Regions from separate parts of the Homo sapiens genome. Here region 2 is linked to region 1. Evidence: fine-mapped expression QTL. A gene starts in region 1. The other region holds a variant in brackets. All regions are shown on one strand. Distances are between the middles of the regions. Region 1 holds the start of FOXP4 (forkhead box P4). Region 2 overlaps LINC01276 (long intergenic non-protein coding RNA 1276).

What was found. PIP is the estimated chance that this variant, and not a neighbour inherited with it, causes the effect.
Region 2: its variant is the best candidate, but not a certain one, in a credible set for the expression of FOXP4 in lung (GTEx, PIP 0.77).

What each region holds. Positions count from the first base shown.
Region 1 is chr6:41,538,282-41,553,626 of GRCh38, forward strand. FOXP4 (forkhead box P4) reads left to right here and starts at 8,100. Exons shown (of 17, transcript NM_001012426.2): 1 at 8,100-8,586. FOXP4-AS1 (FOXP4 antisense RNA 1) reads right to left here and starts at 10,340. Exons shown (of 2, transcript NR_126415.1): 1 at 10,097-10,340. RefSeq lists enhancers at 370-664, 677-746, 7,787-7,896 and silencers at 6,110-6,404, 7,447-7,716, 8,047-8,726, 8,797-8,976, 9,267-9,416.
Region 2 is chr6:41,508,877-41,524,221 of GRCh38, forward strand. LINC01276 (long intergenic non-protein coding RNA 1276) reads left to right here. Exons shown (of 3, transcript NR_120347.1): 3 at 10,500-10,976. It overlaps FOXP4-AS1 (FOXP4 antisense RNA 1), which reads right to left. Exons shown (of 2, transcript NR_126415.1): 2 at 15,019-15,345. Among named protein-coding and RNA genes, the nearest start is that of LINC01276, 14 kb to the left of the region's middle. The variant G/C (reference allele first, on the strand shown) is at 6,776.

The sequences.
Region 1 (15,345 bases):
TTGTGGAACCGTGTATGAATTTCAACCTTTCTGAGCTTTAGTCTTGTCATTTATAGAATGAAGATAATAATACTATCAACCTGATTTAGGCTGGGTTCCCACATAAGCAGCCCCTGAGACACTATTCCATTGCGAATGGTTGATTTAGGAGGTGAAGGAAATACCAGTAGAAAAGTGGGGAAGTAAGACAAGGAAAGGAGGCAACAAAGTATATGTTACCAAGCCAGCTACAGGATGGGCTCAGTCCCACAGAGGAAACCCTGGGAGTATGCATGGCACACATGACTCGGAGTTATCCCACAAGGGGAGTAAGGGAGTAGGGGTATTTATATACCAGTTCCCATCAGTTATGGGTGGAGGGCTCCCCCAGGAAGTGTTAGTTCCCTGGCACTTCTGGTCTCCCACACAGTGGAAAAGTGGGCTCTAATTCCCAAAGGAAACCCTTAGGCTAGGAAAGTCAGGCACTAGTGATTGGAAGCCTTAGGGGTGAAAAGTCACAGTGCACCAGACAGGGCACCAACAAGTATCTGTTGCATCATCTTAGAGGACTGTTGGGAGGTGAAATGAGGTCATGTGTGGAGCGTGCTTAGCACAGTGTCTGATGCATGGGTGGTTCTTCTTTAAGCAAGACCCAGCTTCAGTTTGCCTTCAGCTGCCTGGCTCCAGGGACTTCCTGCTGCCTAACAACCTTGAGAGAGGTCCTGGGGGCTGGAGAGCCATGGCTCAAGAGCAGAGGGGACTGGAGGAGAGAAGACCCTAGGGCACATGGTGAAGACCAGAAAGAAGAGGGGGTGCAGGAGAACCAGGAAGGAGCTGGGGCCTGGGGCCCAGGCCTGGCATAGAATTACAAGGATGAGGAAGTGTGTGAGCCCCACTCCATGGACCCAGCCAGATGCCACACACAATAAGGGATGTATAAAGACACTCTTATCTTCACTTATTTCTACTCTACATTCATTGCCTCTGACATTTGGAGCACTGCTTTCTCTCAAAAACAAAATAGGACTGTTGTGGGAATCAGAGATACATATTAAAAGTGCCTGGTGAACAGTTGATGCTCAACAGGTGGCAGCTATTTTCAATGTGAGTCTACCTGGGCTTTAACTTCCCTCCTTCATATCCCACCTCACCCTCCAGTGCCAGCAGCTGAGACTCCAAGCCCCAGGTCTTCCAGGTTCCATGGGGAAGGAATACATCCTCTGCTAAGCACAGAGTTCTGAAGACATCCTAAGTCAACAAGCAGAAAGGGAGCCAGAGTAGAGATGAGAAGAATGGGGAGCACAGCCCTCTGAGAGAAGGGGATGGCTCTGAGGGAATGAGAGTCTTCCTTGTCCCATTTTCTACCCAGGTTTCCCCCTTGACCCTAGCTAGCTCTTTCCTTGCGATCACTGAAGACACAGTTATTACATATGTCCTACAACATGCAGCTGATACCTGCAGGACACCAACTTGCCCTAAAGCGTTAGGCTATTTTTTGTTTTTTAAACTTTGCTCTAAAGTATCAAATCATAATCAAATCAATATGCATGTACTGTGCAGCTACCTTGCAAAAGAAATTAAGCTGGATGCAATGAGAAATCCCCAAATGACTGAAATTGTGGGTCCCTAAATTAAGGAGTTTATTATCTAGTTGGAGAAATGAGGCATAAAATGGCTAAACAGTTAACAAACAATAGGGTTTGTTAAAAGTTACTGGGAGCTTATTAAATAAGTTAGCTAACAACACATTATAACATCAATGACATAGGAGTGCTAAAGAGCACCTGGAAAGAGGCAGAAGTGGGCTGGGTTAATCAAGAAAGAATAACAGTAGCTATAGTCTATCCAATGCCTAAACTGAGAAGAATCCTACATGAGCCATACTTGTCCTCACGACCTCTCTGCCAGAGTCTCATTTTTCTTCCCATCTTGCAGTTGAGTAAACTAAGGTTAAGCCCCTTGCTTCAGGATTTGGGGCTAGAAAAGTGACAGAATTGAGACTTAAATCCAAAAGTCTTCAAGTGGATGGAAAATGTGGGATAGCTCTTAAAAGATAAGGAAGGGCCGGACGAGGTGGCTTGCACCTGCAATCCCAGCACTTTGGGAGGCTGAGGCAGGAGAATTATTTGAGTCCAGGAGTTTGAGACGAACCTGCGCAACACAGAGACCCCTTCTCTACCCGGGCATGGTAGCTCACACCTGTGGTCACAGTTAATCGGAAGGCTGAAGTGGGAGGATCAGTTGAGCCCAGGAGGTTGATCACAGTGAGCTGTGATTGCACCTCTGCACGCCAGCCTGGGCAACAACGCGGAAGCTCCGTGTCCAAAAAAAAAAAAAAAAAAAAAGATGAGGAAGAACTAAATGAAGGAAAAAGGAATTCTTTTCTCTGTGCCCACTCCTGGGGCTTCTGCTACCCTCATGCATCCTCCACCCCATCCCCACCCCCATGGGTGGGGTGCATGGGGGAGGGATAAGGCACTGGGTCTGCTCTCTTGGCCCCTCTCTGTGTGTCCTGCTCTCTTCCTGCACAGAAATCCCTCCATGTAGGGATCTCATTTGACCTAAAGATGCTGTGTTCCAACTAGTGGGAAATTGCTCACTGCTTGTCAAGCTATCGCTTATTTCCTGATCTTTAATGACTGATTTTCCACCAATCAGCCCAAAGTCCCATGCCCACCACCTTTTGGACAAGGCCTGAGTCTCTGACTCCCTAAACGTCCCAGAAGGAACTCCAAATACCTCCAAGGGCCCAGGCACCCGGTCAGCCTGGCACCTAGAAGGACAAGCCAGCCTCGCCCCAGTCCTGGGGGCCCTCTCCTCCACAGCCCCTGGCACAGCTACCCACACTACCATGGTCATCTACTTGGGGCAATATGGTAAACTGATAAGCCTCCCCCAGAGGTAGGAGCCCCGCTTAAAACCGAGGAAGCCTAGAGAGTGCCTTGAAGGTTCCTGGCACGGTTCATTAAGATGTCAACCCCTAATGAAATATTTCTTTCTTTAAATCATCATTGATCTTGGGGAAGAGGAGCCTTTGTGGAAAAGGAAAAGGCTGTCCCTCTCCTATCCCTCCCTCACCTCCAATCGGCACAGATCCTAGGTCTTTCCCAGTCAGAAAGATTGGGAAGCAGGGAATGGAGGAACAGTGGGGAGATGGGAAAGGGAAAAGATTATGGAGCAGAAGAACCACAGGGGGAAGGAGAGGCACAGTGGGGAGGGAGGTCACAGAAGGAAGCCTACTGCAGCAAGGAGACCATAATACCCAAATATCCACTACAATCGAACTGCCCCATCAGTGGGAGGCTGGGTAACAAAACAAGATGGGACACACTGATATGGTAGAATCCTCTCCAGCAGCCTCTTAAGTAAGTGACCTAGAGACACACACAACACATGCAACAAACATGTAGACATTCATCTCGGCAGCATGAAGTTCAGCAAAACACAAGTAAAAACAAGGAGCAGGCTACCTTTCATTTAAAATTTTAATTGCTTCATACTTTACTATGCCCCAAAAGTGAATAAAAATAAATAACTAAAACAAAAGAAAATTTTGAGATACCCAAGCAATACCAAAGGAGTAAGAGTAGAAAACTTACTTGGGAAGGCCAACTTCAGAAAACCACAAGGGAAGGATGGAGAATGGGAAAGAAGGAGAGTCACAGAAAGGCCTATATTAGCAATGATTTTTACATGTTTCACTTTTAAGCATAAAATGTATAGCTCAATTAATGTTTACAAAGTGAACACATGCATGTAACCAACTCCCAAATTCAAAAAGACCCCCAGAAATCCCCTTGTGCCCCTCCGTCACACCCCCACCTAAAACAGCCATGCTCCTGAGTTTTAATGCCATCAATTCATTGGATTGGGTTTTGAATTTCCTATCAATGGAATCAAACGGTGTTTTCTTTCGTGTCTGGCTTTTATGCTCAACGTTGGATTTGTGAGATTCCTCCATGTTGTTGCTCGTGGCAATGGTTTGCTCATTCTCATTGCCAAGGACTAGCCCACGGATGAGAAGACCGTGGTTTAGTCACCTATTCCATTGTTGACAGCTGTTGTGAATAGTGAGCACATGCGAGTAGATGGCCTAGCATTCTGGTGTATGCCTTTTGGTGAACATATGTACATATGCATTTTTATTGGCATATACTTAGGAGTGGAGTGGAGTGGAGTTACTGTATTATGCTGATAAAGTGGGTTTTATTTTTGTTTTTTGTTTTTTGAGACAGAGTTTCGCTCTTGTTGCCCAGGCTAGAGTGCAATGGCACGATCTCAGCTCACTGCAAGCTCCACCTCCCATGTTCAAGCGATTCTCCTGCCTCAGCCTCCTGAGTAGCTGGGATTACAGGCATGTGCCACCACACCTGGCTAATTTTGTATTTTTAGTAGAGATGGGGTTTCTCCATGTTGGTCAGGCTGGTCTCAAACTCCCAACCTCAGGTAATCCACCCACCTGCCTCGGCCTCCCAAAGTGCTGGGATTACAGGCGTGAGCCACCACACCTGGCCTATGCTGATGAAGTTTTATTCCTCAATAACTAAAAAATAGTTTTTGGCCAGGTGTAGTGGCTCATGCCTGTAATCCCAGTACTTTGGGAGGCCAAGGCGGGCAGATCACTTGAGGTCAGGAGTTCGAGACCAGCCTGGCCAATATGGCAAAACCCCATCTCTACTAAAAATACAAAAATTAGCAGGGCATGGTGGCATGAGCCTGTAGTCCCAGCTACTCGGGAGGCTGAGGCAGGAGAATTGCTTCAACTCAGAAGGCGGAGGTTGCAGTGAGCTGAGATTGTGCCATTGCACTCCAGCCTGGACAACAGAGTGAGACTCTGTCTCAATAATAATAATAATAATAGAAACATAAACTGTCTGGGCTTAGGTTTGTTGGGACCATGGGAATGAAGCAAATGTTTCTAGATGTACACACCACTACCACCCCAACCTACTCCTGAGTATCAGGCCTGCTGCTAGGAACAAGCTCATCCATCAGCCCACTTCACCTCCACAATAGGGTGGCGGCTGACCTTGGGAAAGGGCGTCTGCTTCAAAGCAGGAGACCTGGGAGCAAGTCCTCGCCACACTACTTCCTAGCTATGTGAACTGAGCAAGTCATTTGACCTCTCTTAGCTTCACCTGCAGAAGAGTCACCATTGCTGGGGTGATAAGCTGAACAGCACGTTATTCGACTGCCTGGCAAGCATTTAATAAGTGGCAACTCATGATTTGCAGTTTTGTGAGGTCAGCATTCGTCATTTTAAGTGAGGACCCTGGAGCTCATCAAGGGGAAAATAAGTAATTATGGAAAGCATGTGAGGAACACATTACCAGGCTAGAAGTTTTGCCCATCCTCCCTCCCAAACACCCAAGGAGGCCTCCCAACCTCCCAATTGATGAGTGAGGTGATGAGTGAGTTAACTGAGACTCAAACATCATGTAACTTGCCTGGGTCACACACTGGTTAAGTGACAGACGCTGAAGTTCAACCCAAGGCTGCCTGACTCTAGCCCCTGTGCTCTTAACTATGGCCCCCCTGGAGGGGCCAAGCCATGAGCCTTGGTTCCGGCCACCGCCAAAGCACCTGCACCTGCCCTGAGTCCTGTGAAGGAACAAGGACAGAAAGAGGACCCTCCTGCCTGCTCCCGGTCACTCCCACTTTGGAGCCAAGGGCTACTCTTTTCAACCTTCTTAACGAAGCTCTTGCACCAGGAAGAAGGGCTTTGGACTGGCTTCTTTGATTTCGGGGCATTTGTTCTGTATCTTTCTTTGGGGAGGCTTTGTCTTCCTCGCTAAAATGCCCTTTAGGTGAAGACAAGACAGGGTCTTTTGATGCCTTGAGCCCCCACTGTAGCTCACAGGGAGCTGGGAACTGAACTGGCCTGGAGATGAGGGGTAAACTGAACTGAAAGTGAAGCATTTCCCAGGGCAATCCCTCTGGGCAAGTGAGCCCATGTGTAAGGTACAAGGGCTGCTGCAGGAAGGGGATGGGAAAAACATTCAGTGAACCAGCCAGAAAAGGGCTGGAGAAGCCCCTCGGAGGTCACCTCATTCAATACCCCCCTACAGAAATTCTCTCTTTTGTCTCCAAAGCCCCTAGTTCTCACCCCACCCTCAGCCTTTGCTGCAAGAAGGATAGGAAGGAGAACTGAGGACATAGTCACTGGCCCAGCTGGTCTGACACAAGGACTTGCCACTCCAGGCTTGGCCTAGGGCTGTCCACACACCATGATTTCCACCAGAGCTGGGCCTCAACAGAAGGTAAATCAGATAGTACTACCAAGGGCTTTCTTTCTCCCAGAATATCCTTCCCCTCAGCTAACCCACAAGCAGGCAGTGTCGCTTCAGAGACCACCATGAGCTTCTTTCTTGTCCTCACTGAAGTGGCTCTAGTTGGAATCTGGCTCATCACTGACCAGCAGCTGTGTAAGCCTGGGCAAGTTACTTGATCTCTTTGTGCCTCAGTTTCCTCTTCTATAAAATGGAGATAATACAAATATCTCCCTCCTGGGGTTACTGTGAAGATTAAATGGCTGGTGGGTGGTACGACTCAGATGTTAGCTGTTATTTTATTCTTATGGCTATGGTTATCTCAGTTGCCACACTGGAAAGGACACTGAGATATCCACATAAATGGCACTTAGAGTCTTCCCTGCACAATTTCACACCTAGAAATCTAAAACGCTCCAGCAGGACCTAAGTATGCCTGTCCCACCTGCCCAAAAAGGCAAATACATAAAATGTGGACCTGTGCAGGTGTCACTAACATTGCAGAAAAGGGACAGAAGTGATGAAAAACAACCCAAGAGGGTGCCTCCTCTCTGAGGTCCCCTTTTCTTTCAAGGACCACTGGAACGGCCAAGAAATCCCCTCCCCCCAGGCAACTAAGCATCAATCCTTGCAGCTCCGACCCCACACCTCAGGCTTCCAGCTCCCACTCCACAGGGGCTCACATACTATGCCAGCCTCTTGTCCACCTGCCTGAGGATTTAGGGCCAGGAGAGGCTTCAAGAGCCACTGTCTTCTTGTCCTGATCCCACAACAGGATCCTCCCTTGGTCATGGGGACCCGGCATCACTGAGCTGGGTTGGGGTACTTCATGAGGACCCCTGAGGCCTCCTTCACTTCTCCCCACCCCCAACACATGCAGACAGATGGGAGATGTTTCCGGCGTGTGTGGGGCGGGGAGGGGGACGGGTATTGAGATTTCCACGGGACTCTGAGTGGTGCGTCTGCTAACAACACAGCCCTCCCCCTTGGGCCGTGGGCATTTCCTCACCCAGACCTCCCCCTCCCAACCCAAACACACCATCGCCGCCACCACCACAATCCCTCCAGTCCCCCTGGGCAAAAGCGATGTTCAGAGACGCGGGGTTTTGTTTACAATCTAATTTGTCCGGATAATTGCCTCAACTTTGCACTTCACTTTGCCCGCATGGCTCTGGCCTTGGGCCCCTTCTTCACTGGTTCGCAGAGCACTTTACGGGAAATTCCCTTTCCGCAGAGGGAGGCAGTGCGCGCCAGGGGGTGACCGTTCACAAAGCCCTGAAGGGGCCTCCCCACCTTCTACCCTCGGCTCAGGAAGCCCACCCCCAGCCCCCACGCAGTGGGGAGCAGGAGGGAGGCCAGACAGGGCCCGGGCCTGACACTGGCTCCGTCTCTGGGCCCCCGGCCACTCCCCGCGCCGAGCGCAGCCCGCCGGGAACCAGTGAACCGTGTGGGATCAGGACTTGGCCGTACCTTCAGACTCCAGGGGATGGCCGGGGTTTGCAAGCGCCCCATAGGATTAGTCCGAGGCCAGGGTGAATCCCTGGGGTCCCTCCACCTACCATCTTTTTCAGATCTGCCGCCTCACGTCTTCTCCCCACGTTCCCATTTTTCCTCCCCTAAAGTTTGGTGCACGTGGTTTTCTCTCGCTCTCAGCGGGCTGCCAGGCGGGGTGAAAGTTGCTGCACCTGCTTTAGGCGAATTATGGTAGCACTAGAAGTTGGTCTCCCCTCCCTCCGCCGCTTGCTCTCTCGCTCCCTCCTCCCTCGCTCTCCGCGCGCTCCCTCCTTCCCTCTCCACCCTCCTCCTCCCCCGCCCCCTCCCGCCCCGCCCGCGCGCCGCCCGCTCGCAGCCACTCGCAGCCCAGGCTCAGTCGCAGCCCCTCGGAGTCCGGAGCCCGCCGTCCCTGCGGACCGGACAGTGCGGCCGGCGGCCGGCGGCCGGGACGGAGCCCCCAGCCCGCGAGGAGGGCGCGGCGCAGGCGGCGGCGGCGCGGCGGGGAGGAGCCCGGGCCGGAACCAGGGCTGGGCCGGGGGCGGGGACGCCGGGGTCCGGGAGCCCGGGAGCCGGAGCGAGCTGACGAGCGTCGCGGAAGGACCGGGAAGGAAGAGCGGAGCCGGAGCGAGCCAAGCAGCCCACAAAGTGCCATGCCCCGGCGGGGTTGAGGCGCGCGGCGGTCGGCCCGGCGCGCTGGGAGGACGCCCGGGAGCTGCGCGACGCGGGGCGGCGCGGAAGGGCAGCCCCGGCGGGCGGCGGCGGGCCCGGGCTGCGACCGGAGCGAGCCCCATGCCCCGCGCGGGCTGACGGGCCGGAGCCCGCACGGAGCGGCCGGGCGGGACAGGTAGGTGGCGGGTCGGGCCCAGGGACGTGGGTGGGGGCTGGGCGGGCGACCAGACCAACTCCCTCGCTCGCGCACTCTCTCGCCCGCTCGCTGGCTCACTTTGTGTTTGCAAACTGCCCGCCCGAGACGCGCTGGGCGCCGGGCGCCAGGAGGAGCCGGGCCCGGGCCGGCGCACTTTGTTCCAGCCAGGGCCGGCCGTGGCGCACTGACCCCGCGCAGCCGCGACATTCCGCCCCTGGCCCGGGCCCCAGCGGGCCGGAGCTGCCTCGGGAACAGGTGGGGGCTGTGGCGCGGCGGGAGTGGGGGCAGCCGGAGGCCGGGGCGGGGAGGGGGGCGGCCGGAGAGGCCACCGAGGCCCGCCCTTCCCCAAGAATCTGGGCCCCGCCCCCTCCCCGCCGGGCCTCTGGGAATGGGGTGTACGGGGGCGCGACCCCCTCCCCGCCCCGAGTCAGACAAAGAATACTTCCCGGCCCAGACTTTCCAGAGCTGGGAAGGGAAGTGGCTCCCCCCAACTCTAGTCGGTACCGGACTCCCCAGGACGCGCCGGAGACAGATGAAAATGGGGGCAAGAGAGCGGGGGATCGCGGTCCTACCCGCCGTGTCGTCTCTGGTGAAGAGGGGACTTGTCTTGCTGAGGTCGCACCTCGGAAGTGCCAGGGCCAGTCAGCCCCTTTTCCATCGCTCGGTCAGCTCGGGGATAGAGCGGAAAACTTCTTGGGGACTTGAGAGCGTCTGGAAATGGCCCCTGTGATTTGTGCGCCGGAGGTGGAGGGTGGGGAAACGATCTGGCTGACACCTCTACTCACCCGCTGTGGAGAGAGCTCCCGCTTCACCACTTAAGGGGGGAAGAGAGGGCGGCCACGGGGGCCCGGAGGCCACCAGGGAAGGAGCCCGGAGTGACCGAGCAGGACCCCCCCCCGCCCCAACTGAGGAGTCTGGTATCTCCCCTGGACAACCCCAGCACCTCTCTGACCGGCGGCGCTTCAGCCTCGGGCTCCTCATCCACGCCAAACAAACTTCCTTGGGCTGCGTCAGAGCACAGCCAGTGGCGCTAGAATGCGACCTGGGGTCCCGGCCGCCCCCATAAAGGACCGGGTAATTTCGCGGAATGCGGATTTTGAGACAGGCCCAGACGGCGGCGGATTCCCTGTGTCCCCCAACTGGGGCGATCTCGTGAACACACCTGCGTCCCACCCCGATCCTAGGTTGGGGGGAAAGGGTATGGGAACCCTGAGCCCAGAGCGCGCCCCGCTCTTTCCTTTGCTCCCCGGCTTCCCTGGCCAGCCCCCTCCCGGCTGGTTTCCTCGCTCACTCGGCGCCTGGCGTTTCGGGCGTCTGGAGATCACCGCGTGTCTGGCACCCCAACGTCTAGTCTCCCCGCAGGTTGACCGCGGCGCCTGGAGCCGGGAATAGGGGTGGGGAGTCCGGAGAACCAAACCCGAGCCTGAAGTTGCCATTCGGGTGACTCCCGAGAAAGCCCGGGAGCATTTTGGCCAATGCGGGTTTTTACCTGAACTTCAGCATCTTCACCCCGGTTTCGGAGACCTGCCTAGATTCGTCCCAGCACGCACTGTTTCGGGTTCGGGATTGAGGGTTAGGGCAGCACACACAGCTTGAGGGGCAATTGTTAGGACTGGCCCGAGTGCCCGCAGAAAGAAAGAGCAGCGGGGTTGTCGTATGGCCTGTAGCTGCGGGAAGGTCTGTGCCGGTCCCACTGTCGAACCCAGAAGCTCACTTTCCACAGAAAACCAGGGCTGAAGGGCCCCCTGACCGCCATGCCCTGCGGGCACCGGGCATTTTGAGCTCTCCCCCACCCCCTCCCCCTGCTGCGAACCAGCCGGTAGGTGCAGGGGCCGAAGGCCAGGCCCAGTGGACCCAGCCGCCTGAAGGGGAGCCACGGCCTCAGAAAACCTCTGCCCGCCCCCGCGGAAAACCGCTGTGGGGAAGTCTGAAGGCCTTTTTTTTTTTTTTTTTTTTTCAACTTGAGAAACTTTTGCCTCGGGGTTTTGGGGCTCTGTTACCTGGTGGCTGGAGGGAGGATACTGGGGCTCTGCTCTTGGTACCTGGACAGCTTGTTGGCTCCCATGGTGCCCTTTCGATCTGAAACTCAAAAAACTGTGAGTTGGGGGAGTCACTCACACTCTAGTCAGTGGGGCAAGGTGGCAAGGGGAAGAGGTGGTTTTGTGGTTGCCCCCTCTCAGCCTCCACACCCAGGGCCAGGGTGAGCGCTGAATCTCTCCTGCGGGACGGGACCCTCAGGACCCACTTTATCCTGGCTCCAGCCTTGCTACTAAGTTTGGGAGACCATGGGAGCCTTCTCTCCTGGCACCAAGGGCTGGGCGCCTGGGTGGAGTTTTCTGTCCTTCTCCCTGTCCTGGACAGGTTTCCCAGGAGTTACGGAGTTGGGGAACCCCTGAGCCCTGGAGAGAGAAAGACCTGACCCCAGTGCTGGAGAACGCCAGGGCCAGAGCATTTGCAAAGGGTCCCACTTGCAAAGGGACCTGCTCCTGTCCCTTTCTGTGTAGGGATCTTCCTCACACCTAGACGCCCCCAGCCCCCTTCCTCTGCCTTTAGAGCCGAAAACTTCCGTTCTGGCTGTAGGCAGGTAGGTCCCTTCTTGCCAGGAATGTGCATATCCTGCTGGGCCCCTACCCCAAACATACCTCTTCCTTGGTGGGAGGGAAGCAGAGGGACTGGGAGAGGAAGGCTTGCTTTTGATCCAGTAATTCCCCCAAATGTTTGCTGAGCCCCTACTCTGCCTGGGCAGGTCCCAGGCTGAGTACTGGGGTACCCAAGCAGTGAAGGCTGGGGTCTGCTGTCTGGACCTCAGATTGTTGGGGTAGGAGAGACAGATATCACATGGTGGGGGGGAGGGTGGAGGGGAGAAGAATGGGAACAGGGTGTCTGTTTCAGAGGAGAGTTGTGAGGTGCAAGGGGAGGGAAGGGTTGTCTCCCCAGGAAGCCTTCCCTGCATCTTAACCCTTCCTACCCCACTGCCTTGGCGGTTTCCTGTCTCTCCAGCCACAGTGCAAGCCCCCCAGTCCCATCCTAAGCAGGCACAATGTCTTTATTTTTTGAATAGCCTAAACTGTGTGAAATAATAATTTCTTCCATCCAAGAAACTCCTCACAGTTTCCCTTCTCACAGATCTTACCACGCTCCAGCTTCCCTAGACCAAGGCAGGGCAGGTACTATTTTTGACAGGACTCTCAGGCTCCGTTGGCTGGAATGACCTCCTCAGATTTGGTTCCAGAACTCTGGAACCCAGAGCAAGGAACTGAGGCCTCCCCAGGGCAGAACATGTGTCAGAGTGGAAAAGGCTTTGGAACTTGGCATTAGAGATGGGACTCTGGAGAACTTAATTAAGCTCTTCGAACCTCAATTTTCTTACATTGTAAAGTAGGTCATAATACCCACCTTAGAGATTCTGTTTGGGAGTTAGATGAGAGAGCAGATGTCAAGTACCTTGCACGGTGCCGGGTGCATGGTAGTACTGATCAAGGGATGGCGTTTATTATTAATTTGCTAGCACTGCCAGGCCACATGTTGGTTGAATATGGAAATACTGAAGTATTAATCTTCATTTTATGGGTTGGGAAAACGAAGTCCAGAGAGAAGAGGCAACTTGTCCAAGGTTACACAGCTACATGGTAGCACAGCTGGAACTAAAATATGGGGCCCTCGACTCCCAGTATAACCAGTAGGGCTTGAGCGTGTGCTGTGGTGAAGGGAGAAAGGAAGGGATGGGAGGAGCTGCCATTCCTCCCTCCTTCCTCCATAAGCTTGGCCTAGGCCGCCTGCCTTCTAGTGTGAATACTTTCTCTTTTCCCTTTAAGTGGAGAGGGGGACTGTAGGTGCAGAATCTGGTGTTTCCACCTGCACACAACCCTGGAGCATTCCCCAGGCACTCCTAAGGTTCTTGTGAGACACACATAAATGGGAGAGAGAATTCCCCAGAATGCAGAGGAGGAAAAATGACTGATAACCCCTCTCTCCAGAAAGGGAGATTTCTAGGGTTTGGAAACCCTAGCCTACACGTCCTTATGGAAGATTTTGGCAGCAAGTCTCAGACCAGTTTGGGACCTATCACTGAATGGATCATCTCAAAGAAGCAAAAGGAAACTCCCCTTGAGCCTGAAGTTATTGGCTCCCTTCAGCGTTGCCTCCCAGGATTCTCTGTGGAAATACACACCTTCAGTCCACTGCCAGTTCCACCAAGCCGGGATCACAGCGGGAACCCTCTTTCCTCTGAATTCTGCCACTTTGGATGCTGTGGTCTTGTGAGATGTTGCTCCTGGGCCCTTGCAGAGCCTGGACGCAGGGCACACCTGCCTGATCTAGAAAACAAGAGCTCCTGGCACAAAAGGTACACATCTGGACAGGGCCGCAGGTGTTGGACCGTGGAGTCACTGTTGCTGTGGTGTGTCGCCCGGGCTGGACATGCCTGGGCCTGGCGAATGCCCTCCTTGCCTTGATCCTGGTCCCAGGATCCCTCTTGAGATCAGGGTCTTTTCCCGGCTGTCCCTCTGGCACAGCCCTGCACCTTCCTTCTCTCCTGTCTGGATGGTAGCCATACAGCCGCCTGTTCCCTGAATCCCAGCTGCTCTGCCCACCTCCCTGGGCCCCATGCTCTGGCCAACTGGAGCCTCCACAGCCAGGCCTGATGGTGGGTGGAGCCAGTTGATAGTGCAAGATAGAGGTAAATGGTGTTTCCTTTCCTGCTGCAGTTCTGATGGTCTGTGACCCAGGCTACCATGTAAATGGAAAATGGGGCGACATAGTGGGTTTTCCTCAGACTAACAGTATGTAGAATAGAGACCATCCGGCATTTGTTCAAGGTAGGCAGGACTGGTGGGAGCAGAAGTTACTCAAGTAGCAGCAAAGGGGTGGCAAAATGATGGCGACTTGAAGGTAGGGTGGCTTAGGGAATGGAGCCAGGGACTCAGTAGTTGTATCCATCCTACGAACACACTGTGGAGCGCCTACTGTGTGCTGGAGGCCAGGCTGGTGAAGGGCAGCAGGAGGGACCCGGAGAAGGGGTGGCTCACATGCAACTTGGAAAATCAGAAATAGAACAAGGGCCGGAGCACAGATCTGTGGGCACTGGCCACCTGAGCCAGCGTGGGTCCTGAAACCCCCAGCTGAGACAGGACATGTGTGCCACCCAGAGAGCCCTTAGGAGGGCCTCCCCGTGTGAAATGAAACCAGGGGGTGGGAGGTTGGGGTAGCTTCCGTTCTCATCTCCTCAGCGGGGCTTCCTTGGATTCCATTCCCGGCTGGCTTTACGTTTCTAGGAGAACATTTCTATGGAGACCCAGGCCTAAAGAAGTTGCTTCAAAAGAGGGTGGCGGTGTACTTCCTCCTTTCCTTTGGGGTTCCCCTGCAGATGCACATCCGCATCCTGGAAGGAAGGGGTACACTAGGGAGAGTTTTGGGGAGATATGAAACATCAGGATTTGTGGGAGACCCAGCGAGAGGCTGCGGCTGTAAGCACTCAGGGAGCAAAGCGCCAGGCTTTTTGAGGCTGCGTCTCTGGATGGGAGCTGGAGAAGCTGGATGGTCAGGCCATGCTGAGGGTGTAGAGTTGGTCCACTGAGAGAATCCCTCCTTCAGGAAGCCTCTGAGCTTTCTTTCCCAGAGAGCCAGAGCTACCTGTTTCCCCTCCCCAGCTGAGCGCTCGCTTTGGATTGTTCCCTCAGTGAGTTTTTACCTTTTTAACTGAGCGCATCAGTTCCAGTTGCTGGAAGCTCCTGCATGTCTGAGACCTGAGCACAGGGATATAACACAAGGGGTTTTCGGCACTCACCAGACGCAGAGAAAAGAACTGCAGCTGGGCTAGCTCGGGCCGGCAGCTGGGGATCCGGAAACACTGGAAGAGGGGACGGCTCAGGCAGCATGGCAGTGTTTAGCCACAGAGAAAGCTGCCCACCGATTGTGCTCAGAGATGATTTTGTGGGTCTAGGCCTAAACAGTCTGTACCCACACGGGTACATGATGAGGGTCCCCGGTAAGCCCACTGCTGCCAACTTCCTAACTCACTCTTCGGCCTTAGGCATGACCCGTCTTCTCTCTGGGCCTCAGTTTTCCTAACTGTACAGTGGGTGAAGAGGACACCTGCAGCCCCACATCCTCGGGCTCACCATCCTGAAGCTGTGGGTTGGGAGCCAGGCAAGAAGAGACCTGAAGGTCTCAACGTACACCCTCTTTGTTCCAAGGGCATCGGGAGCCTACTTCCATGGGTCCTTCTTGAAAGGGGTGCTGTGGAGCTCGGGGCAGAGGACACTATGACCCATGCAAGTCTCCTCCTTCCCAATTAGGCAGTGGAGCCTGATTAAAAGGGGTGCTGCCTGCCCCCTCCCACCCGATCCCCATCGACGAGATTTCCCTTCATCAGAATCTCACATTCTCCAGAAATTAATTTGATGCCTCATGTTATCAATTAATTGAATCTCGTTGGGAGAGAGAGCTCCGCGAGGTGAGGCGAGCTTCAGCTTGGCCCTTGTGTGCCGCCATCCCCCCTCCCCCTCACACCAGGGCAGCCTTCTCCTCCCCCATTCCTTTTTTTCTGCCTTTCTTTTAATTGCACTTATTTTCTAAAATAAAACCACTGCTCTGTGCCCCTTTGCCCAGTTTGGCTTGGATGGATACCCATGGACTGGGTACTGGCTGGGATTTGCCCTTTCAGAGGTGGGGGCAGGAGGACTTCCCCTCCCCTGGACCCTGTCTGATCTCTCCTTAAGTAAACAGAATCTCACCCTT
Region 2 (15,345 bases), 29 kb before region 1:
ACTGGATGGCACCAATAATAAAGGCTGACACGTCCAAAGCTCTAAGACTGTGCTCCTCACTTTGCTAAGCACGTTCGACACTTGCTTCATTTATTTATTTTTATTTGGCAGGTGAGAAGTAGGCATCATAATTATACCTATTACATAGAGTAAGAAACTGAGGCTGAGAGATTAACCTGTCAAGGTCCCTTAGCTAAGTGGTAAAGCCTGGCTGTGTGCCCAGACCTGTCCACCTCCAAAGCAGTTGTCTTGTAAAGACTGCCTAGGCTGTCCGTGGCTGATGCTACAGGAATGGAGCCCAGAGAGGACTAGGGATGGGGAGACTTCCTGGAGGAGGTGGGGTTTGGCTTGGCCTTGAAAGACCAGGTAGGCTTCCACTTCTACCCATCCAGGGCAGGCCGTATGGAAAACAGGGAAAGCTTCTAGGCAAAACATGAAGAACTTTAAAAACAACAGTGAGGAGTTGGGTCCAGCTAGCCAGGAGTGTGTGTTGGAGCAGGTTGAGGCCAGGCTGTGGAGACCAGAATGTCAGCCAGCAAGGTAGCCTCTTCCCCACTCCAGCCCAATGACCTATGTCAGAGAGAGCTCACCAGGAACAGGAATGGTGAAGGCTGGGGACTAGACAGCAGTCCTGCTCAGGCAGGGAGGGCAGAGAACTCACACCTGGTCTGCACCCCATTTCCTGGCCAGGCACCCCTGGTCTCAGTCATTCCCCATTTCCAAGTAGTAAATAGATGTATAAAGCAACCATTTCCATTTAAAGCTCTGCAGACCGTAGGGAGGAGGGCCTGCAGGCCATCTGGGCCCTTGTTTGGCAATGTTTGTGCTCACAACAAACCTGATAGACAGAGATTTATCGCCGTTTTCATTAGCTGGGGTTGGTTTGGTTTGCTGCTTTTCCACCCCCTCCCCGCTACACACACACTCCCGAGTTACAGATTTATGGTGGGTGGGAGGACCAGGGACTCAGAGAGAGGGGAGGAAGAAGGCTGAGCAAGGTATGGACTTGAAGCAAAGGGGATGGGGTGGGGATATGGAGGATGAAGGGGTGGGGGTGGTGAGGAGTGCACCAGCTCCAGAGAAAAGACTAAGAGAGGGTGTGTGTGTGTGTGTGTGTGTGCACTAGCATGCATGTTAGAAGGTGGCTGAAAGACACCTGCAGCCACATGCCCCCAACACACACGTACACACACATCTCATAATCACTGTAACTGTTGAGCATAGAAGCTGCTGAAATTCTAAGCTATCACCACCAGCACTGGGCCCAAGGCCAGGAGGGATGCAGACCTTTGGCAACCTCAGGGTCCACTCTGGTATGACCGTATTTAACAAATGCCTATGTAGCATTCCTTCTGTCCTGAGGCTTTAGCTAGCTTCACTAATTTCACCATTAAAGCAACCTCCAAAGTGGACACTGTATCGTTTCCTTGATGCTGGTTCTTTCCCTCCCCTCACAGCAGAGTATACACCCCACCCATCTCTGTAGGAAGGGGGCCTGGACTTGAGTTCCCAGTTGAAGATATCATTTTTCCCCTTGGTGAAGTTCCCATGGGCATCCCCTTAGGGCTCTTTCTTGGGTTCTTTGCACTCCCTCTCCTCCAGCACTTCCCACCCCCAGCCAGGCTGGCTCTTCCCTGTCTGCATCTTTTCTCAAACAGCACCTCCTGCCCGGTGTGCCCTCCCCACACCTTCACTCATCAAAATCCTTCTAGCCTTCAAGCCCTCGGGGACTGCCTCGTGAGGCCATTCCTGAGCTGCTCCATGAGGGTCATGCCTTCAGTGAAAGACACTGAGAGCCGCCCTTGGGGATCATCCTGAAGGAAGAGGAAGAAACCAGAGAAGGTTGGCTCCCGCCTCTCACAAGCAGAGTGGCTCTACTTTTTATAGCAGAGTTCTGTGTTGGATTTCATTACAGCTAATTTTAAGAGGAAAAACAAGGTTTAACCCAGTGATCAATTCTAACTTTCTCATTTCACAGGTGAGAAACCAAGATCAGAGAGGGTGAGTGACTTGTCCAAGTCACACAGAGTTCTCGTCAGGGCCACAGGGCCAGGCTCCCCGATGCTCTTTCCATGGGATAGTTTCCCCAGTGTATATGCCCATCCTGCTAGGAGACTGGAAGCTCTAGAGAGCAAGGACCAGGACGTGGCATCTCTGTCTCCACTCAACAAACATGTGATGCCTGCGTGTTATTTCACAGGCATTTGATCCCCAAGGCTGGCAGCTTTCGGAGGGTCCATGTTATCAACTTGCCTCCACAGCACCCAGGTAGGGACAGGCTGTAGGGTTGAGACAGGGCTGGAGTGTGGAAGGGGGAGTTCCTTGTCTCTATAGAATCTCCTCTGTCTGGAACACTCACTGCCAAACAGAGCTCTCTGCCTCAGGATTTTCAACACACAAAGCACCTGTCTTTTCAGACCCACCCATAGTCATGTCCCTTGAAAAGAAAGGGTTGATGGGTTGGTTGGTTGGTTGGTTGGTTGGTTGCCTGGAAGGCCCTTAGCAATAATCTGAAGGAAACCAAAAGAACTTCCTCTCCCCAACAAACCAGAACATCAACCCACCATCAGCCTGCCTCAGTGTCTACCGTCCCATCAGAGTGCCTCCTGTGGGACACGGCCTTGGCTCCAGAAAGTCCCACCTCTTTCCTAAGCAGGAGTATCCCACTAGTTCTGACTAAGGCAGGACTTATCGAAGTCAAGAGTGGGCTCTGGAGCCACACAGTCTTGGATTCTAGTCCAAGCTCTGCGGCTGAGAAATACTGAAATACTTAACCTCTCTCTGCTCTGGTCTCCTCTGGGAAATAGGGATAAGAATATCTGGAACAGTGCTCAGAGGATTATTAAAAGAAGTGAACAATTTGTCTCAACTTCCCTGACGGAAAAAAAAAAGGATTGAATGAGATAACCAGTTGGGACACTCAACACAGCACTGGGCCCACTATCTTCCTGTGAATGAGGTCCTCCAGGATTAGCAAGTGCGTTGCTTGGCAAAGTCCCCAGGGAACAAGAGGATGGAGCTGGTGGAGCTTGAAGACACAGAGAATAGAGGGAGTTACCCCAGGCCACAGACAGCCCTGGTAGAGGAGGGGGAACAGCCTAGTCACTGAGCCCCCATCTGCTATGGGGAATCTTGAAAGTGGGAGGAGAAAAGTCTGGCACCAAAACCAACGTCTCCTTCTCTGATTTGCCAGGAGCTGCCCCTTAGCTGGGCTTAAGAGTTCCTTCCAAGGGGTCATTTCACATGATAACAAACTTTCATAGAACTCACTACATGCCAAACACTACATCTTCCCCCGGTAAACTAGACGGTTGGGGCCATTAGGGATTATTATCGTTACCCTGTCTTAGAAGAAGGCGGCTGATGCACCAGGAGCTAGCAACCTGCTGGGGCCACACAGTCCTAAAGAGCAGAACTGGGCTTTGAACCCAGGTGGTCTGCCTGCTCTTAACCCCCTGGACACTGGGTCAGCTTCCTCGCCAGCCACTGGCCACACCTCCAAAGCCCTCTGCAGTCAGTTGCCTGACCAACCTTTCTTTTGCCTACTGGGGTCTTGTCAAATCTGTATGTCTCACTATCAGGCTGGGATCTCATTCTTTTTCCAGTTCGATGGAAATTACCAAGGTCCAGGGGTCCAAGGTTGGGGGGATGGGGGAGGGTGAACAAGACAAATAAGACATAATCCTGGCCCTTGGGAGTTTTCCACTCACCCCTCTTAGACCAAGCAAAAGTACAAATGGAGACCCACATTCCATATGTCTAAATATTTAAAAGTTAAAAATCAAGTTAACAAACTGTTTAATAAAATATGTTCTATTCATACACCTTCTAAAGATCTGGAAGGCTGGATTTGAATTTAGAGTTCTCAGGTTTCTTGGAGTTCTACACAGGGACACGGAGTGGGGAGAAACTCCCTCTGCTCTCCCCCAGCCCTGCCCTCAGCCTGCCTCTTCCCTTCCCATCCCCACCTTCACCTTAAACTAGGGCTTCGAGCATGTGTGTAGATACTCCAATCCGCACACACAGCTGCTGACTGCATGCCCCACACTCAACTCACAGCCAAGACACAGGCTACCCTCTGGAGGTTGAACCTGGGGAGGTGGCCTGCAGAGGTCTTGGATGCAGGGTACAGGCCCTTAGGGCAGGGATTTCTAGGGCCCTGGGCATCTGGAGCATGGTTCAGGAGTGGGGGTGGCTCCCTCCTTCTGAACAGACTCCTACCCTGTGAGGAGGGCCAAAGGAGGGCCCTAAGTTTAGGGCCCCTTGTCTACAGGCACTGGAGCTGGAGGTGGGTCACTCTTTCTTCCTTCTGCTTTCTAATCTCTTTGCCTGATCAGCCAACATCTGAACATCCTGGCAACTTTCCTTTCTAAACAGTTCTCCAAGCCCCATCACAGCCCCTGTAGTCCAGGCCACTCTCATCTATCACCAGGTCACCACAACAGCTTCCTAACTGGTCCTCCAGGCCCCAGTCCTTTGCCCACCCCTCCACAGCCAGTGATCTTTGTTGAACACAAACTGGATCATGATGCAGCCATGCTTAACACTCTTCCGTGGCTCCCTGCTGCACACAGAAGACCCAAATTCAACTTGGCCATTGACGTTGGTGTCCAGCCCCTCTCAAGCCCTCCAGCCTCAGCCTGCCCTACTCCCTGCCCCTAAATGATGCTCTGGCCTATCTACACTGCCCCCAGGTCCCTGCAAGACATGAAGTACACACTGCAGTGTGTGCTGCTCCTCTGCCCCACTTTCTCACCTCCTGTCTCTACGAATTCCTTCTTCTTGAAGATTTGGCTTCATGGTCAAACCTGCAGCAATCCTTTCTTGTCAACAGCCCACTCCCGCCTCCAGGTCTGGCAGGGAGTCCCCGGCTTGTGCTCTCATACTAGTATCTACACTCTATTATAACTATCACTAATTTAACCACTTCTTAATACCCTGACCATTGCCATCTCTTGCTTGAACTATTGCAGTGGCTCCCTAACTACTCTCCCTGCTTCCACTCTTGCCCCTTCCTCTAGGCTGTCCTCCACCAGCAGCCAAAGTGAGCCTTTTAAGACATGTGTTTGGGCTGGGCGCAGTGGCTCACGCTTGTAATCCCAGCACTTTGGGAGGCCGAGGCGGGCAGATCACCTGAGGTCAGGAGTTCCAGATGAGCCTGACCAACATGGCGAAACCCCGTCTCTACTAAAGATACAAAATTAGCCGGGTGTGGTGGCACGTGTCTGTAATCCCAGCTACTCAGGAGGCTGAGGAAGGAGAATCGCTTGAACCCGGGAGGCGGAGGTTGCAGTGAGCCAAGATTGCGCCATTGCACTCCAGCCTGGGCAACAAGAGCAAAACTCCTTCTCAAAAAAAAAAAGACATGTGTTTACTGACCTCACCCCCTGCTCAATATCCCCAGTGGCTCTCATCTCACTATAGGATCCGAAGGCCTGGCGGGGCTATAGTATCATTCATGATTTGCCCCCTGCTCCCTCTACTCTTCTCCCTTCTTCCTTCCCTCACTCACTCTTCCCCAGACACACTGGTCTCTTTCCTTGCTCCTCGTTAAACCCAAAGGCACTGCTGCCTCAGGACCATTGCACAAGCAGTTCCTTCCCTTTACTCAGATTTCTGCTCAAATATCCTCACCTCCAAGGTCCTTCTCTTCCCCCCTACTTTGTTTTACTTCACACATTCATCTCCCCATGACAGACTGCATATCTCTTTGCTTATGTGTTTCTGTCTGTTTCTCCTTCAACCATCTAAGCTCCACAAGAGTGGGGACTTTATCTGTTTTGTCCACCTCAGTGTCCTCAGGTCTGGCACATAGAGGTGCTCAAGAAGAATTTGGCAAAGGAATCATCTGTTTATGTTTTCATGTCCCAGCTAGAATGTGTCCCCCCAAGAGCAGGGACCGTGGCTCATTTATCTCAGTATCCCCTCTGCTTGGCCTGTTGCTGGGCACATAAACAGATGACTTCATTCAGATGGTGAAGGAATGGAGGCCAAGAGCATGGCCTGTGAAAAGGCACCACAGTGGGCTGGAGCCAAGGGCACGCAGGGCAGATGGAGCTGGAAAGGTGAGGTGGGAGCAAATTACAGAGGGGCTGGAAGGCTGGGGGAGCTTCTCTGTAACTTAACATTGAAATGGCTCCTATCTAACATGGAGCCATTGCAAGGTCTTAAGCCAAAGAGAAGAATTTTACGCTGCAACTGTATTTAAAGCTGGGCACGGTGGCTCATGCCTATAATCCCAGCACTTTGGGAAGCCAACACAGGAGAATCACTTGAGGCTAGGAGTTTGAGACCAGCCTGAGCAATACAGTGAGACCCCATCTCTATGAAAAATTTAAAAATTAGCTGGATGTGATGGCACACTCCTGTAGTCCCAGCTACTGGGGAGGCTCAGGCAGGAGGATCAATTGAACCTGGGAGGTCAAGGTTGCAGTGTGCCATAATCATGCCACTGCTCTCCAGCCTGGATGACAGAGCGAGACCCCGTCTCAAACAAAATAAAATATATATATATAATATATATATATATAATATATTTTATATATATATATATATATATATATATATAGATATAGATATATTTTTTAAAGAACTTGGGAGCCGGGTGCGGTGGCTCACACCTGTAATCCCAGCACTTTGGGAGGCCAAGACGGGCAGATCACAAGGTCAGGAGATCGAGACCATCCTGGCTAACATGGTGAAACCCCGTCTCTACTAAAAATACAAAAAAATTAGCTGGGCCTGGTGGCGGGTGCCTGTAGTCCCAGCTACTCGG[G/C]AGGCTGAGGCAGGAGAATGGTGTGAACCTGGGAGGCGGAGCTTGCAGTGAGCCGAGATCGCGCCACTGCACTCCAGCCTGGGTGACAGAGCAAGACTCTGTCTCAAAAAAAAAAAAAAAAGAACTTGGGAGAAGAGTAATCACGAAAGCATGGAGAGATGGAACTGACTTAGAGATTGCAAAATCCCCAATCTCAGAATATCCCAGAAGCAAAGCATCATCTTGAGTTGGACACACCAAGGCTTGTCTCCTGATACTTCTCGGCCTCTTTACACTGGCTCAGTCCACTTTTTGACACTGAAAATTGGTTCTGGACATAAGTGCTCCAATCACCCCTAGGAATGCTGGAATTTGCGTGAGAAGGTATCTTAGAGAAAGGTTAGATGTGAGCGGTTCCCTGGGGGCAAGGGCTGGGAAAGGGGCAGGAAGAGTATGGTGGCTCTGCCCCCCCGGGAAAAGTTGAAGGCCCTTATTTGGCATCACCACTCACCTAGGCCTTGGTTGTCCAGGAAGGCCTGGGAAACAGGGCGACAGAGTGTCTCGGGTCTCCCCTCCCCTCTACCCACCCCCCAGGCTTTACTCTGGGTCAGTTGAAGCCTGAAGTGGCTTTTAAGCAATTAGACCAAGCACTGGGCACTTTCAAATCTAATTGTTTCAAAAGCCCTTGAAGGGTTTGAGTCTGAGCTCTTAAAATGCCAGAGAAGAGGGAAATCAGTGATGGTGGGAAGTGTGCGGGGCCCAGCTCTCTTCCCCTGCCCCTGTTTCTGCTCTCCATCTTCTTGAGGATGGAGCGAGTGGACAATTTAGAGCAGAAGGGTCCCTCCTCCCCAGGCTCTGAAGGTTCTGTATCCCCTTCCCTGCCCTACTTCAGGTATCCAAGTAACTGTTTAATCAAACTCTATGCCCTCCCCACCAAATTGATGAGAACTAGGGCCGTCCAGTAGGGAGACCCTGACCCCAGTGGGCAAAGCATCTCACCATCACCCAAGAAAACATGTCAGCAGCCTCACTGTGATTGCACACCTACTCATGGGCTGGAGGCTTGGGATTTTTTAAAAACCTCCTGACCTCAAGGAGACCAACAGCCTGACAAGGGAGAAAAGAGCTGCTTCAAATGGGCAGAAATGAGAGGTTGAACTTAAGAGAGATGCAAAAGCAGTGAGCTCCAGGAACACCGAACTGGGTGGGAGTAGGGCCAGAACTGGAGGAGAGAATTGAGGAACGCTCCATGGTGGAGGGTGACATTTGAGCTGAGCCTGAAGAGTCCGTAGAATTGTGCAGGTCAAGTTAGAAAGAAGGGTACATTATGAGTCCAGGGAATGAACATGAGCCAGAAGTGATCATGGAAGGGTGGAGGCCCCTAAGGACTCACATCCATCCCATCATGCTCTGACTCAGTTTCTTTGTCTATAAAATGGATCACTAGACTGGCTCAGTGGATTCTATTCGTGTTCTCCTGAGCTTTGGAGGTCCACAGAGAAGCTTTGGACCACTTATGGGCCAAGTGGGAGAGCAGAGGAGGCAGGGTCTAGACCTTTGCCTTCAACTGGAGCTTTAACTCTTAGCTGTTTTATATTTTGGATTTCGGTATACTTTTGAGTCATTTTGTCCTCTGCAAACTACTGGGTGGATGGGTCCCTGGATATCTTCCAGCTCTGAGCTCAGGGTCTTCCTCATGATCAGCCACTTCCCTACCAAGAAGGACAGAGAGAGAAATCTATGCAGAGCCCTGAGGGCCAGTGGGGTGGAAATTCTACCCCAAGTTCTGATGTCCTGGAAGGGCTCCTGCCCAGCTGCCCTGGGGAGCTCAGCCCATGACCAAACTCAGATGGACTGATGGGTTTGATTCCTGGAGATATATCATTAAAGCACCTCCCTTTACATTTAGGTAAAGTCTCCCAAACTTTTTTCATGAGGAGAAATTGCCTTTCCTTCCATTGAAGGTGCAAAAAAGACAGCTTGGGTTGCTGCCAATATACCTACATGCTGTCAGAGGGTGTGGATGCCACTACCCACAAAGCCCAGAGTTTGGACAGCAGCCCACCAAACAGCTTAGAGGTGTCCCAGCTAAGCCTTCGAGATAGGATGGAGGGTCTCCAGGAATGCCAAAGGAAATTGTTGAGGAAATCAAAGAATGAATGAACAAATAAAGAGGCCACTGCCAAAATGCCCTTGAAAGGATCACTTTGGAAGCTGTTATTAGTCGTGTTTACCTTGGTGTGAATTAAGTATCTTAGGGTAAGAGTTGCTAGGAGGAAGGAAAGGTTTTGGAAACTGGATGTCACTATATAAGGAAAGAATAATACAAAAAGAAAGATGATGGGTGCAAGACAATCACTCACATAACTTCATCCTAGTCTCCACTACCCCCAGCTCCTCACCTTCCCTCAACCCACCCCCAGCCTCCTCCTCATACCCTCTCCCTTCTTTCCTCCCTGGAAATGCTCCCCAGCTCAGGGCCCAGGTGCTGAAAGGTGCTTTAACGTGAGTGAAAAAGTATTTGGCCTGGAGCAGGGGGACCGGAAGGGGGTGTCAGTCTGTGCCATCTGAAGGGGTGTGGCCCGCTGCATGTAAACATGGAGGAAGGGAGTGGCTTCCGGCCTGAGCTATGGGCCCAGGGAAGGACTGGAAATTCCTACCTGGCCTTCTGCTGCCTCCCCACCTGCCACTGCAGCAACTTCGCTTCACAAACAAAACAGAGACGGAAGTCAGTGGAGTCTTTGCAATGACATCTGCCCCTGCTCAAGTCCTCTGCCCTTGGGAGGTCCCACGACAGGCCTTGGCTCCAACCTTCAGCACCCAAGACCCCAGGATGGCCCATACTCTCAGGGGCCCCTGCCCTGGCCCTGGCCCACTTTCCTGGTCATGTTCTCTTAGGAGTGGCTTCTAGCTATAAAAGCCCAGGTAGGCTTAAGACAAGCAAACAACAATAATAACAACGAAACCCACTTCCCATGGTTCTCCCACAGTTATAGGTTGAGAAGTCAGATGTGTAACTTAGAGCAGGTCACTTAAACTTTCTGGATTTCAGCGTCTTCCTCAATGGACAAAACAGGTCGGAAGACAGTTTGAATCATATAAGGTGCTCTATAAGGGTTGGGGATAAATATTAGGCCATTTAACTGTGGGTTCAAATCCTGCCTCCACCTCCCACCAGCTGGGTGATCTTGGGCAGGTTATTGAATTCTTGGTGCCTCAGTTTTCTCATCAGAGGTGCTCCTGTGACCTATGTTGCAGCTTTGGGAGGTGGATTAAATGAGATAATGGATGCAAATCATCCAGCTCAGTCCCCACAGTTGGTAGAGGTTAGTTTTCTATTACTATATTTTGTTGAACCTAAGACTGTAAGATGCACCATTATTTTACGATCCACTAAGAAAAAAATACCACTGTCAATGAATTGTGAGACGCCTTGAAATGGAAGAGATACTGTATTATTGGAAGGACAAGTGGGGAGTGGGTGGGAAATGGGAATGTCAATCTTTTTCCACTTGGGATGCATCCTGGAATCCAATGCCCAGCCTGCATCCCAGTTAAACCAAAACCTCTGGAGTACAGCCAGTAATCTTTCTGTGACTTGGTTTCCCCATATGCAAAATTGGGATAATTATAGAATCTACTGGGGCCATTAAATGAGTTGATTCATGTAAGCGATTTAGAACAGTACCAGGCCCACAGAAATGCTAAAGTAATTGTTAACAACTATTCCTCTCTCCACCCCCAGGTCCTGGCACAGGCTAGGTGCCTTCTGACTGTTGGTTGATGCAGGAATAGACATGATCATGTGACTGCTGCCCTCCCTCCAACCCCCATCCAGCAGGGAGAGGCCCACTCTGGCCTCTGGAAGCCGGAGAAGAGGCTCACCTGCCCAAAGGCCTTCTGTCCAAAGTTCAAGGGAGCCCCACCCCTCCCAGATGCTCAGCTCACCCCACCCCCAACAGGCAGGGCTACAGTGTGGTGGGCACTGCCACACCCGGACCTGCCACAACCTCTTGGAGTCAGTGACAAGAACCAAACGCACCCCAGCCTCCACCCCTCCCCTTTCCTGCTTTTATTATTTTCTTTTCCATAAAGATTAGTCTGTGTTGCTCCTCTATCAAGGCCTGGAGGATAAACATGTGGTCCGGAGGCAGAGAAACCCCAGGCCTGAAGGCCCCACTGCCCCCACCCCAGCAGCATAAACCCAGGGCTTTTAAGCAAGGAATGGTTTTCAGTAAATCTCTCCTATCAGCAGAAACCTTTGAAAGAGTTTGTTTAAAGGCCAGGGAGATAAACAGCAAGGAGAAGTGTTTGTTTAAGATGTATGTTCTGTGTGGCCACTCTGGGGCCCGGATTTACATCTCTGGGGAGAGGAACCACTCGGAGGCCAGGGTGGGGGCCTTCCAGGGGCACCTTGGGCTCCCGGTGTGGACTTCAGCCCAGGCAGGGACCCATGAGCTCAGGGGAGGGAAGTTAGCTGGACTGCACTCACAGGCCTCTCCAGGCTTGGGGCAAGAAAGCAGGGGCTGAAAGGAGCTGCAGGAAGGGAAGAAGCCCTGTAAAGGAGGGGAGGGGTGCCTGGAAGGACCTGCTGGTTGGAATGCAGGCAGAAATCCCCTAGGAAGCCACCAAACACACACACACACACACACACACACACACACAAAGCTCAGAACAGGCTCAGGCTCAAGGCCCACCCCAAACAGCCTCATACTCAGCAGCCCAATACACAGCTGGGTATGGCCAGCTCTGTGACCTTGGACAAGCCACCTAACCCAGAACTAGAGCCCTAGTTCCTCTCTGCTGTGAAAACAACACACCTGCCTCAAAGGGTTTTGAGTTTTCCTCCTGTCATTTGACAGATATCGCTTGTACACCTACCGTATGTCAGGCACTGTTCTAGGTGCTTGGGATGCAACAGTAAACAAAATACAGCCTCTGTCCTTTTGGAACTTAAAGAGGAGGAAGATAGGCAATGAGCACAATAATCAGTAAATTAAATACTCTTCGGAAGGTGACATGAGCTATAGAAAGAAATAAAGCGGGTACAAAGACCTGGGAAAGGATGGTTAGGTTGGACCTCCCAGAGAAGGTGGTCCTTCAAGGAGATGCAGGTATCTGAGGGGAGAGAAGCTCAGGCAGAACCCTCAGCCAGGGCAAAAGCCTGGAGGATTGAATAAAATACCTTAGGGTAGGTGCTGAAGCATAGTCCTGTGGTCAGTAAATAACGTCCAATGTTGTCATTATACTGAAGCAGTTACTGAGGCCTGGGATGGGCAGGGAAGCCTTCAGGGAGGATGCAGGACTTAAGCTGGGTTTTCCCTGGAATTCCTTCTCCCTGCCAAGTGGAGAGAAAGGCCCTGCAGAAAAGCATCATGGAGGTAGAGAGACAGGAGAATGATGGCAGAGCTCATTCCCCAAACCCAGTGGTGGCCAAGGGGTGTAGGGACCAACGCAGCTGGATTCTCAAGGAAAGTCTTTGGCCTGGGTCAGGAGTCTGGGCTCCCAGTTCTGGCTCTGCCCCTTGCTGGCAGGTGATTTGGGGCAAGTGATTTGAAGCTTCTTGCGTCCTTCTTTTCTCTACGGTAAAATGGGAATAATATATCCTCCCTTCATTGAATTGGTTGAGAGGATGAAAAGAGATATGGGGCCAGGCGCAGTGGTGCACACCTGTAATCCCAGCACTTTGGGAGGCCGAGGCGGGCGGGTTGCCTAAGCTCAGGAGTTTGAGACCAGCCTGGGCAACACAGTGAAATCCCATCTCTACTAAAATACAAAAAATTAGCTGAGCATGGCGGCATGAGCCTGTAGTCCCAGCTATTTGGGAGGCTGAGGCAGGAGAATTGTTTGAACCTGGGAGGTGGAGGCTGCAGTGAGCTGAGATCGTGCCACTGCACTCCAGCCTGGGTGACAGAGCGAGACTCCGTCTCCAAAAAAAGAAAAAAAAGAAAAGAGATATGGTGGGTGTTTCTGCCTGGAACATAGCAGATGCTCAATAAACATTGGATTTGCATTTTGGGCTGTCCTGTGCCCTTTCAGACTCCTTTTGGGCACTTTCCTGAAAGGATGAGCCAGATGGTGATGAGTCTACTGGGTCCCAGACTTGGAGGAGAAGACGACTAATAGCTGAGCATGGTCCCCACGTAGCTGAAGGGCTGTCCCGCCAGAGAAAGCCTAGATTTGTTCCAAAGGGGCTCCAAAAGGAAGGAAGAAGTTTCACGGACACAGATTTTCATTTGCACTCAGGAGGAATTTGGCAATGGTCCGGGCTATTTAACAGCAGGATGGACCTCTATAGAGACAGCTAGCTCGTGCTATTAGGAATTGTGTGGGCAGAGGTGGCTGAGTTGTTTTTTGTTTTGTTTTGTTTTTTGTTTGTTTTTTGTTTTGAGACAGAATTTCACTCTTGTCACCCAGGCTGGAGTGCAATGGCACTATCTTGGCTCACTGCAACCTCCACCTCCCAGGTTCAAGTGATTCTTCTGTCTCAGCCTCTCAAGTAGCTGGGATTACAGGCGCGTGCCACCATGCCTGGCTAATTTTTGTATTTTTAGTAGAGACGGGGTTTTGCCATGTTGGCCAGGCTGGTCTCAAACTCCTAACCTCAGGTGATCTGCCTGCCTTGGCCTCCCAAAGTGCTGGGATTACAGGCGTGAGTCACCGCGCCCAGCCCTGAGTTTTGGGTAGAGGTAGAACAGAGAGGTGGGGACTCCTTCTCTGCGAAGTTTGGACCCGTTGGCTTCTGGGATCCCTTCCAGCTTTGAGATTTGGGGATTTACCTCCATTCCTTGCCAGGCTTCACAGTCCATCAAGATCTACCCATACAACAGATTTTTTCCAATCCTTCACGGAAATTTGCCTGACCCCTGTGTCCTTTGGCTTCAGTCATGTGATGGGCCAGCACATCTGAGAGATGCATCCATGCTAAATTTGGAGTGGTCACAGATTAACACATTAGTCCTTCCAGGTAACCCAGATGCAGGTTTACAGGGTCTTGGATCTGTCAACTTAAAGGTAAAAGGAACAGTGGAACTTCTAGCACCGGGGAGGGACCGAGGACAGATATGTTTGGGAAAACATGCCTGAGAAGTTCATCAAATAGTGCCTAGTACCCTCCAAATCCTTCTTACAATAAGATTAACTTTAGCTAAGATCACAAACCAGAGCTCAAAGATCTGAAGGGCTGGAGTGCCTACCTTGGCCCCTCTTCATGAGCCAGGTGAAGTTCCAGGGGATCTCTGGACACCTTCTCCTTGCCCTGTAGACGCCTTGCCAAGGAGAACCCGCTTGCCTGGCAGCTGTAAGCCAGCACTTTTCTTTTCAAAGCCTCTGAGTCTCCTTTCCCTCCTCCTCCTTCCTTCCCGCCTCCCCCCTCAACACCCAAAAAAGGAGGATGCCCCTTCTGTTGAGTACACAGCCTGCAATTTTGCTGTCAAATCTCAGCCAGGAGGTCAGTGTTGTGACTGACTGTGTAAGGATCGCTCCCTTAAGGGTAATTACACTAAATTCCCCTCTGAAGGACAGCTCTCTCTGGATAGAATACAAGAAAACTCCGCATCCCCCATTCACGGAAACTCATGATTTCTGTGGCTGTCACTGGTACTCTGGCAGCGAGACACTTCGAGGTTCTCCAACCACTCGGAGGTGAGTATGAAGGCGGTGGCCGTGGCAGCACCCAGGCCATGGAGGTGGGTGGCCAAGCGGCAAGATTAGGGGCGTGGGGTCCAGAGGGACCCCTCTGGGGAGCTGGGGTCCTGGGTGGCCAAGCAGGAACTGGGCCACAGACAGGAGCATCTCCACCTGAGCTGGCCACGCCCTGAACAGGGAATGCAATGTCTCTCCACTGACATTCACCCCGGGAGAACACCCCTACACATGCACTCATTCCTTTGTTTAACACATTGCCTTAGAGCACTCATCACCTGCCCTGCACTGTACTAGGCACTAAAGGGGGACCCGCGATGGGGCAGCAGCCCCCTCTGCAAAGAGCTGGAGCACTCGTTGGCAAAACAAAGCACTTACATGTGAAAGGTGAATAAATATCCAAGCCTCCTCCATCCCCTGCATCATCCCCAGACCCTATCAGAGGGGCAACACGCTGACCCTTGTCCCCACCTGCCCTGAAGGAGGCTGGCAGCTAGACCTTTCAGGTCTAGCAGCCACACTTCCACTCTCCCCACCCTGGGGAGACCCTGGCAAGAGTTGGGGAGTCACTCACCCACAACAAACAGTTAAAAGGAAGAAAGCAGGTCTGGCGATATCAATGCACTTTGATAACAATAAACTCTGCTTTTAATTTATGCTAATGTGTAGGGCTGTGGTGACAGTAAGAACTAAATTACAGAGTGGCTTTCGAGCTGGTAATTATCCCTCCATTTTTCGCTGCTCTGGAAGATGGACACACAATTATGCTCTCTTGCTGTATATTAATACAGATTCTTGACATCTTCAGCAGACCTGGAGCTGTCATCGAGCTTTTTGTCTCCTTTAATTGAAAATTAATGGTTACTAGGTTGCCACGGAAACAGAGGCCACGGACGCCAATGGCGCTCACGTCTCACCGCGGGACTGGCGGCGTCAGGAGTCCGGAA